3 linked regions of the Homo sapiens genome follow. The protein of the gene in region 1 purifies or fractionates together with the protein of each later gene. This does not show direct contact. Each region holds a gene or a part of one and is shown on either strand. Other genes may lie near its edges.

Region 1 (3,720 bases):
GGTTTGAAAACTTCCCATGGAAATTCCCACTGCTCAATCCTCAGACGCTATGGGGCTACTGCTCTACTCACAAGAAGGCCTCACACATGGAGCAGGTGTTGCCATGCATTTTTCCATCTGGGCCCTGGATGGGGTCATTCTCTCTGGTGCAAAAAAGCCGTCCGTTTTTCCTGGATTTGCGGTATTCACTACACAACTCCTGTGAAATTGAGGCAGGAAGTTGAAAGTGTTGAACATAGGCTGAATCAGATTGCAAAAATAGCTAAAGCTTGTACTTTTTTTCTTAAACGAGGATTAGCAATTGGCTTATTTTAGAATGATTAACTTTGAAGGCATGGATTTTTTAAGTGATAAAAACAATGAACCCAACAACCAAGAAATAGTCACATATGCACATGTATAACTGCACACATGAAAACACATATGAAAACACAAACTGTACAATTGTTTCATACAGTTTTAAGGAATGCACGTGTTCCCTGAACATGATCTGTGGATCCTCAGGGCCATATCCCTCTGAGTTGCTGGAGGATATAAACTCACCTCAAAGGAAGCTGTACTCTTAGATTGTCTTTTGTTTCTTGATTTACCTTCCTTCTTTTTCTTTTCTTCTTCTTCTGCTTGGCTAAAAAAGGATGGTTAAGAAGAGATAAGTAAAAATCATAGAATCGCCACATTAGAAGTGATCTCAAATATAATTTAATTTTACACTTAACAACGATTAAATTCTTTGAATGTGATGTGCCTAACCCTGTGCTTACACTGTGAAATCCTCACAATTGCATTACAAAACTATTATTATAACCCCAACATACAAATAAACTGACAGACGGAATGCATAACTCACCTGAAGATATAGAAATAATAAGTACAGACTTGGGATTTAAACCCTAGTCCAGAGGTGGTTTTCTAAATTTCCAATGCTCATTACTGTATCTCTAATGACTCCCAAGCCTTTGCTTTAATCTGCCTGTAAAGTCTGTACTGATATCATCCTTGGAATTCCATGGTAAATCATCCATCTTTGAAATCCGCAAACTGTTAGGAAGTTCTTCCTGGCATCCACTTGGAACCTGTCTTCCAGACCTTTCATTCTTTGGCCCACTGGCCTCACTTTTATTCACGGAGATAAGCTAGAACTTGTCCTGTTTCCACACTTAAAAGACAAAACTACTTGAATATTTCAAGATTATGACTTTCTCCTTGCTTAAGTGTGAAGTCTTGACAATCTTCAAAGGACATGGATTTTCAAATACATGTCTCCAATCAGACAGTTTCTCTAAATATGCCTTAATTCTTTCATTTTTATGTTGAAGTGGCCCTCCCATAATTGAACATGGAAATGAAATAGAAAGAACAAAATCATTCCTCCATGTTCCCAGCTGCAGGGCTACTCACAAGAAGACCTCACACATGGAGCAGGTGTTGCCATGCACTTTCCCATCTGGGCCCTGGATAGGATCGTTCTCTCTGGTGCAAGCAAGTTTTCCGTTCCTCACAAGCTTTCGATATTCACTGCAAAGCTCCTGCCGAGATAGAAGAAGTAAGTTGGCCATATATTTCATTTCTACTTAAAGCAGAAGGTTCAAACATCTACATTGGCAGAAACTAATGTTACATCTCTTTGAGCTGAGGATTTTAATTGTGTTTTTCTCAAATGTAAAATTCAATTTGACAACAAGAAAAACATCATATGCCAAGAGATAGGAAAAAATAAAACATAGCACAATGTCCCCATATAATACAAGCAATATATAAGCAAATTCCACTATAATCTAAACAGAATAAAATAGGTACGAACATACAGGGTACAATAAAATCTGAGAACTCAAAGGAAACCAGGGAAGGTGTCAGGGAGCAAGAACAATTTAGGTGAGACTGTGGAAGTGTAAATAGGATTTGACTGGGCAAAAAAAAGTGAATTGGGAAATACGCACACAGGTTTATGAAAATAAAACTAGCTGAAAAACACAGGTAGGAAAAGACATGGCACATAGCAGAGCATGATTTTCTGAATGGAGATAAGGATACAAATAAGAGGAGAGATAACAGGATTAAAGCATATCCTGTATATGATGATGAGCTGCTTGTGGGTTTTAAGAGCAATATTATGATCTTATTTACATTTTGAAACATTACTCCAACTATGTTAGGGAGACTGGTTGGGCAAGGGAAAGGATAAAATCCAGAGTGAAAATTAGGAGACTTTTATCATCAAAACCATTGGTGATGATAACTGAGCTAAGGCTTTGGAAACTAATATTGTAATATTTCAGGGATAAAAATCATGCGTTGGTGGGGGAATCAAGGTATTTTTTATCTCAAATTAGATGTGAAATATCAGAAACTCATATGTAGAAAGCATACATGTAGAATTTCTCTGGAAAGTAGTTAGCAAAAGCTAACAGTCTATAAGTGATAAAACTAGAAGTAGAACTCAGTTTTTCAGCTTTTAAACAATTTTTTTTTTTTTTTTTTGCAGAGTTAGTTTTTAATCAGCAAGAATGGATCAATCTTCCCATATAATTCATCTCAATACCATCCCCAGATTGAAGAGTTAAGATATTCTGGGGATTTCTGCAGGGCAAAATCTCACCCTTTAGGCTCTTAAAATTTGTTCAAATTATAGCACCAAATAGGATTTATTGGATGGATTCCACTCACTGCATATGAGGTTGCTTTTCCAGATTCTCTTTTGTTTCTAGCTCGTGCTTCAGCCTTTTTCTTTTCTTCATTTTCTGCTTGGCTGAATAAGAGGGAAAAAGAAGCAGATCCATTAGGAACAAACACATGCCATGATTTCTCCACATCCTTGCACTGTTAACTGTTCTCCCTCCTTAGAGTGGAACAATTTTGTCCCTTTATCACTGCATATCAATGAGAAGCAACAAAATATCCTCCAGGATAGTATGGTGCTATGATTTCTTCATAATGTCTGTTTAATGTTGAAAGAAAGACGGCAATAGTGGATCTGGGATACTTGCTTTCTGTAAATTAGTTTTCTTGCCCATAGTAAGAAAAGGAGCATGATCAATGTTCATAACAGAGGCACCAAAACTAAAATCATGGTGGCATAACCTGAAGGCTGAAAGTGGCCTTAACAAAGCACATCTACTCATCCCCTTGTTAATCAGAGAAGATGAGAGGTAGAGGGGGTCTTTGCTACATCTCAGGATATGACTACAACCAAGGTCTCCTCCCTCAAGACCATGGTCTATCTATCACACCATGTGTACCCTAGCTTTGCTTTAAACTTAAATATTTTGCTTACTCATAGCTGTTTCATCTAAAGGACAAGATGTGAAAAAAAAAACCACAATAATTTCCATATACTGATAAAACAAATAAGCCTAAATTTGCTTTGTACAATGGAATTGCACAGTATGTACAGTTAACTGATGATATTTCAACCATATGTAGTTGTCAATCAAAACAAAGAAAGCCATAGATTCTAAATATAAGTTAAATACTTAATTTGAGCTCAGCCAAATAAAGAGCTATCGTAAATCTTGAAAGAAAACTGTCCATTCTAACTTATTGAGAAATATTGCATTACATAAAATAATACCCATTGTAATTTTATAGGAGTTTAGTGTTGTTTCATGGGAATTTTGACTTTATTCCATTTCTACATTAAGCATCACCTTTGGACTCTTAACTCCCATGGAAGATGAGATACCTATAAATTGCTAAAACAGGCTAACGTGTGAAGTTTCAGGA
Region 2 (3,536 bases), on another chromosome or scaffold:
AGAAGGCCAATTATTTTAGATTAGAAAGTTCTATGAAATGAGGCAGAAAAAGGACGTTGTTTGTAGCAAAAACCAAATAGGAAGCATATTTTATTGAACCTGGGATACATTCACTTGTTCTAAGTTCAAGCTGACCACTGGGTCAGCAAACTGTAGCTATAAGGGAGGGGGCCCAGAGAGCGCAGAGTTACTTTAGAGCTGAGACTTGCATATAGTCTTTTTTATTCTGTGCAACTCTGCAGTGAAAAAAGCAGACAGGCCAGATTTTAAAGTCCCATAATAGAGAATAACTTTAATTAAAGTCTCCACAGGCTCACAAGTTTGTGGTGCTTGGGGATTTTCCAATTCTGCATTATCAACCAATCCAAACAGAAAGAGAGCAAGTGAAAGAAATTGATTTAAAAACATGACCAAAAGTCAGTTTAATATAAACATCATAAATATAATATGAACAAAGCTGGAAGAGAGCCAAGTGGCTTGGCAGGGATTCAGGTACAGCCAAGGTTGTGGGAAAGTGAGTAAAAATCTGGGTCCAATTTGCTTAAACAACACAGCTGGGCTAGGATGGATCACAGAAGTCTAAGTGTGAGGGCCTAGGGGAAAGTTCTGGGAAAAAAAAAATCCAACAAAAACAACCCAACAGGCTCACTTGTTTTCTTCCCTGGATACTAAGCAATGCATTTTCTCCCCACCGTTGTCCTTGGATTACTGCTGCCTGACACCTTCGGTCCTGAACTGACCAGGGAGCAAAGACCCTTGCCTTGCAGCTTCTGCTCTGTCATTAACTACTTGTGTGGCCTCAGGAAAAGCAGCGTTCTTACCATCCACGTCTTCTCCTCTGAGACAAGACGAGGCTAAGTTAGATGGCCCTGAATATTCCTTCATCTAAAATGTCCTCATTCTAAGGGATGCATAGAAAATTGTGCCAGAAAAATCTATTCCATGAGGAGGATTTGCAAGGGGTGTTGGGGAGCTCGTTCAGGGATTATCAGGAGTTGTCATTGCTTCAGCCTCTGCCTCAGTGAGTCCTCTGTGGTCCACCAGAAACAGCTCTCATTTGCTACATTTTTGCACCACTAATCCCAGACTAAATTTAGCCTTAGTTTATTACAGAGGACAGACCATGTTGTCTGCCCTAAACCTCCTATGCAGGATGCGAAATTTGAACAGTTGTTCAAATTTATGTCACCTCCTTTCTGGAGAAGTTGAAAGGCCATTTCATTCTGGGGCAGGATTCTAACCATTAGATGACACCTGTCATAGTAGGACACACTCCTATTTGCAGAGGGAGGAAAAAAATCCACCTGAAGAAGACCAAGAGGCTTATATCTATGGCTATACCTATTTAATAATTGAAGCCTTAAAAAATCAGTTACAATGACAATAATCCAGAAACACAGTCTAAAAGAAAGCAGGTGTGAGGATTGGAATTCATAAAAATAAAAGGATTGCATGATTTGATGAAAAGATACAGTCCCCACTCAGGCTAAGATGCTCAGGACCTGCAGAGAGAAGGTCCCTGTGTCATTGATATCTCTAAAGGATGGGGCTGAACACTGTGGCTGAGAGGCTTTAGTTTACCTGAAGGAATGCATTGCAGGGCACAGTAATCTGGCACTGCTTTTGTTTTGCTGCAAGGCTTTCGCTTCAATTATCAACATTATTAACAATATCCATTGCCAGCGTGTGAGTGCCGATCATAAGGTTCCGAGCTTCCCAAGCACTGACTCATTAATCCCCACAGCCACCCTGCAAGGCAGGCACTATTATTCTCCCATTTTACAAATGAGGATATTAAGGATCCTTTTTGCTGCAGCCACCTAGCTGAGAAGCTCAGGTCTTTGGAATTCTAAAGCTATGTTCTTGTACCCTACACTCCACTGCCTCTGTTCATGGGTATATTTGCAGAACACCCACCTCTGTGCTGTACTTAACCCCAATGAGAATTCATTAAAGACGAACATGCCACCCCTACTCCAAGAACTCACAATCCATGAGGAATGGCAAGACACACCCACAAGCACATGATATGTGGGGTCATTCCTTTAATCCTCACTGAATCTCAGGACACACAATATAGCAGGTGCTCAGCATGCATTTATAGGAAGAAAAAAGAAAAAATTAAAGAGAAACAGAAGGAGAGAGAGAAGATGGCAGCATCAAAGGCATAAACCCAGCTCATCAGATAAGTGAGCCAATCAGTCCTTAACTCCACAGGAAAGTGGATGCCACACACAGATTCCAGAGGCTTTCCCCTGAGGCCCCTGATAGGGCCTCCATCACCATAGAGATTTTTGTTCCCTGTTAGAAAATGCAAAGAGAATACGTGTAACTCGTGGATTTTGCTTTAAATCAACTCATTGTTTGTGCTCTTCCTCTTTGAAACCCAGAATATGATAGCATGTAGAATACTTGGGAGGAAGGGAATTTTAAAACATGGAAGAGAAAACTGAGAACTGAAAAAAAAAAAAAAAAAACAACCCACCTTCTTCTTTCACCATTGCAATCCCCAATCCCTTCCCCACCCCACTCACAGCTCCTTATGGGGTCTGGCACAAGTGGTTAAAAAAACTGGCATGCTTACCTGGAGTGGGAGGAGGGTGGACGACAGGGGTGTTTTGATCTTTAGAGGCCTCACACTCTTTCAGCTTGGTCTTCAGAGCCACGATTTCTCGGCGAATGGCAAGGACATTGTTTTTGTCTAGTGTCTCAAGCTTCTCTACCAAGAGAGTCATATTTCTTATCTAAGGAAATAAAAATTCAGAGTGACTTTATATTATGGTGCAATTTCTTTCATAAACATTCCAGGGCTGAATTTGTCATTTAGTGAAACATTGCCAGAGAATACACCAGAGATTCTTCTGAATGGTTTCATTTGGAAGAATACATTTTATGGTTTAGCATGAATGCCTGTCAGATCTCAGGCAGATGTGTGTGACAAGAAGAAAATGGCAAAGATTTTAATAGCTTTAATAATAGAGCCCAAGCTCATCCTCAGCATCCACAAATGTCCATTAAAGTTCATTTCTAATAACCTTCCCCTATAAACTTGTGTTTACTCATGTTGTATTATAATTAAGATTCTAATGAATGGTGAGGGCCAGAGAAAGCTTAAATTCTAAAATACGTAACTAGAATTCTCAATTATAGCCCATGTCATGACTGTGCTAGTAAATTTTTGTTGATATAAATTACCCAACCATAACGTTAATGTGATGGTCTTTATCCACAGATCTTAAAAGGCTTTACAGAAATATACAAGAAATTTCTTAAAGGGGGTTTCCAGTTTGCAGAGAAGGATTCCAGGTTATTCAAAAGGAGAAACAAACCTAGCAATTTTACCACAATCAGGTATATTGTGGATTTCTAGTTCCATGAGGATAAATCTAGAGCAGAGAAGACACCTCATATAGCTTGGCCATGAACCGTTGTTCAACTTTATGCCAGCTCCTTTTCAGAGAAGTTGAAAGGGCATTTTATTCTGGGGCAGGATTCTGACCATTAGACAACATCTGCTCCTAAGTCAGCACATTCCC
Region 3 (3,536 bases), on another chromosome or scaffold:
AAAGAGAAATAGATTTTTTTTTTGTTTCCCTTACCCTAGTCTTATCTTTTCCCACAAAAATTGGACCCTCAAGTTTCTTCGCTCCCTCAAGTTCATTGAGGCTAAATTGGGTTTAGGCTTTAAAGGTCCAGATTAGGCCTATAGTTTTTTCCACTTTACTTTTTAGGGGACCACTTGGAAGGGAGGGAGAACTAAGGAAATAAATGTAGCCTGGGCAACATGGCAAAACCCCATCTCTACACAAAAAAATTACAAAAATTAGCAGGGCATGGTGGCACATGCCTGTAGTCCCAGCTATTTGGGAGGCCAAGGTAAGAGGATCACTTGAGCCCAGGAGGTGGAGGTTGCAGTGAGTTAAAATCGTGCCACTGCACTCCAGCCTGGGCAACAGAGCGAGGAAAAAAAAGAAAAGGAAATAGACATAATTCCAGCATTTCCCCGATTCTTTCTGGAATATTCTTTTTTTTTTTTTTTGAGACAGAGTTTTGCTCTTGTTGCCCAGGCTAAAGTACAATGGCACGATCACGGCTCACCGCAACCTCCGCCTCCAGAGTTCAAGCAATTCTCCTGCCTCAGCCTCCCGAGTAGCTGGGATTACAGGCATGCGCCACCATGTCCGGCTAATTTTTGTATTTTTAGTAGAGACAGGGTTTCTCCACGTTGGTCAGGCTGGTCTCGAACTCCTAACCGCAAGTGATCCAATTGCCTCGGCCTCCCAAAGTGCTGGGATTACAGGCATGAGCCACCGCGCCCGGCCTAAAGCATTCTTGTATCAGGCATCTGTGCAGCTCACTGCTTCACTTATCGTGAGCCCCGAACCTCACTGGATGAGGGAAATATTTCCTGTCTGCCCCAAGTAAGATAATGTCCCCATCACCCTTCCTTAATTTTCTTCATGGAGCTTATTATCCTGACATATATTTATTATCTTTCTTTGATCACTAGACAAGCTTAATAAAACAGCAACTTTGTCTGTTTTGTTCACTGCTATAGTTCCACGTCCTAGAACTATGCGGCATGTAGTAAGCGTTCAGTGAACAAAAGAGTCAGTGAATTCAAAACAGCCTCCACAGATTAGAAAGAGAGGATTGAGGCCTGGTGCGGTGGCTCATGCCTGTAATCCCAGCACTTTGGGAGGCTGAGGTAGGCAGATCACCTGAGGTCAGGAGTTCGAGACCAGCCTGGCCAACATGGTGAAACCCTGTCTCTACTAAAAATTCAAAACTTAGCCTGGCATGGTGGCAGGTGCCTGTAATCCCAGCTACCTGGGAGGCTGAGGCAGGAGAATAGCTTGAACCTCGGAGGCGGAGGCTGCAGTGAGCTGAGATTGTGCTACTGCACTCCATTCTGGGTGACAGAGTGAGACTCCATCTCAAAAAAAAAAAAAAAAAAAAGGATTGAGTCAAGATGATTACATATATCAGGGATAAATGTAAATTTCTATTTGGACTCAAAAACCTATTTATAGTCAATAACCTCACTTGATGAGTCAAAAATGACTTAGGAATTTAGGCAACCACAATCTTGGACTATAATTAGTATAATGCCTACTGTTTTCCCTTCTATTAGAGGTATCCTCTCCTATCCTCTCCAACCAATCCATGGCTTTTTCTTCCCTCCAAACCTAGATGAAGGGTTTATCTTCTCTAGAAAGCCTATGAGCATCATGAGCACAATACTATGAGCATAATGTCCAGATTACATGAGAGGCAGGTATAATTTCATCTGCACTGGTCATAATATACATGTAATATTGTGTATAGCAGTGACAATAATAAAATTGCTATTTTTTGTGTAAATTTATATGTCCCTGCCAGGCATTGTGGTAGAGCTTACTTTTTTTATTTCTTTTGAGACAGCGTCTCATTTTATTGCCTAGGCTGGAGTGCAGTGGCACAAGCTTGGCCCACTGCAACCTCCACCACCTGGGCTCAAGTGATCCTCCTGCCTCAGCCTCCTGAGTAGCTGGGACTACAGGCACATGCCATCACACCTGGCTAATTTTCGTATTTTTTGCAGAGATGGAATTTCACCATGTCACTCAGGCTGGAGTGCAGTGGCATGCATGATCGCAGCTTACTGAAGCTTTGACCTCCCCAGTTCAAATGATCTTCTTGCCTCAGCCTCCTGAGGAACTAGGACTACAGGCATGTGCCATCATGCCTGGTTAATTTTTTTTTTTTTTGAGATGGAGTCTTGCTTTGCCCAGACTTGAGTGCAATGGCGCGATCTCGGCTCACTGCAACCTCTGCCTCCCTGGTTCAAGTGATTCTCCTGCCTCAGCTTCCTGAGTAGCTGGGATTACCAGCACATGCCACTACACCTGGCCAGTTTTTGTATTTTTAGTAGAGACGGGGTTTCACCATATTGGCCACGCTGGTCTCGAACTCCTGACCTCAAGTGATCTGCCAGCCTTGGCCCCCCAAAGTGCTAGGATTACAGGCATGAGCCACCATGCCCAGCTAATTTTTAAATTTTTTTTAGAGATGAGTCTTCACTATATTGCCCAGGTGGTCTTGAACTCCTGGGCTCAAGCAATTCTGCTTTAGTCTCCACCAAATTGCTGGGATTACAGGTGCAAGCCACCATGCCTAACCAAGGAAGAGTTACATTTTATTTAAAATATATATTTATTGTTATTATTTTTTTAGAGACGTGGTCTCACTCTGTGGCCCAGGCTGGAGTGCAGTGGTGCAATCACAGCTCACTGCAGCCTTGAACTCCTGGGCTCAAGCAATCTTACTACCCTAGACTCCTGAATAGCTGGGACTACAGGACCATGCCACTATGCCTGGCTAATTAAAAAAAATTTTTTTTAGAGACAAGGTGCTATGTTGCCCAGTCTGGTTTTGAATTCCTGGCCTCAAGATCCTCTTGCCTCAGTCTCTTGAGTCGCTGGAATTATAAGCACGACCCACTGTACCCGGGTACATTTTAAAATAATATAGATAAGGAGCAAAACATTATTAACAAAATAAATCAAGGTGACCATGTCTATATCCATACCGAATAATAATAGTGTTTAGTCTCAAAGTATTAAATGAAATAGCTTTTAGGGAAAGTTTTCACAAAATGGAGACAGCCTTGGTAGTAAGCTACTTGAAGGCAGGCAGGAACAATATCCTATGGATCTTTGAATCCCTCAAGAGTCTCTTGCTTCTAATAGGAGTTCAGTAAATATTTGGTTGAACAACTAATTGGATTCAGTTGCCATTAAGAATGGGCACAGCCTAAGGAAGTGGCTCTCCATTCATCAATCAGGTGCTTTCCTGCAAATTGTTTGCTACTCATTAGTGAAACTGAACACTGTCTCTATGAGAAGAGGAACACAGCAAACTACCAAGACAGGCATATTTTTTGGAATGATCATAAAGAGAGATCTGAAGGCTTAGATTAGGAGACACCTGGGCAATTCTTTTGGCTCTATCATAGATTTATTCCCTGCAGCAGTGCGGTGGAGGAGCGGGGGGCAACCCACTGCTGCTTACATATTTACAATGCATCAACTTTTATTGTTAGAAAATGGAGATAGGGTA

Evidence for each region. Proteins that work in one complex are often made in the same cells at the same time.
Region 2: the proteins of SPINK5 (region 1) and OLFM4 purify together in Homo sapiens (co-immunoprecipitation; one large-scale study listed by IntAct). This does not show direct contact.
Region 3: the proteins of SPINK5 (region 1) and SYT11 purify together in Homo sapiens (co-immunoprecipitation; one large-scale study listed by IntAct). This does not show direct contact.

The regions. Positions count from the first base shown.
Region 1 is NC_000005.10:148,098,260-148,101,979, reverse strand, and holds part of SPINK5 (serine protease inhibitor Kazal-type 5 isoform b preproprotein), read right to left. Parts: intron 2,747-3,720; coding exon 2,665-2,746; intron 1,527-2,664; coding exon 1,399-1,526; intron 626-1,398; coding exon 544-625; intron 200-543; coding exon 72-199; intron 1-71. UniProt on the Homo sapiens protein: Serine protease inhibitor, probably important for the anti-inflammatory and/or antimicrobial protection of mucous epithelia.
Region 2 is NC_000013.11:53,042,313-53,045,848, reverse strand, and holds part of OLFM4 (olfactomedin-4 precursor), read right to left. Parts: intron 2,745-3,536; coding exon 2,585-2,744; intron 1-2,584. UniProt on the Homo sapiens protein: May promote proliferation of pancreatic cancer cells by favoring the transition from the S to G2/M phase. In myeloid leukemic cell lines, inhibits cell growth and induces cell differentiation and apoptosis.
Region 3 is NC_000001.11:155,862,567-155,866,102, reverse strand, and holds part of SYT11 (synaptotagmin-11), read right to left. Parts: intron 1-3,536. UniProt on the Homo sapiens protein: Synaptotagmin family member involved in vesicular and membrane trafficking which does not bind Ca(2+). Inhibits clathrin-mediated and bulk endocytosis, functions to ensure precision in vesicle retrieval.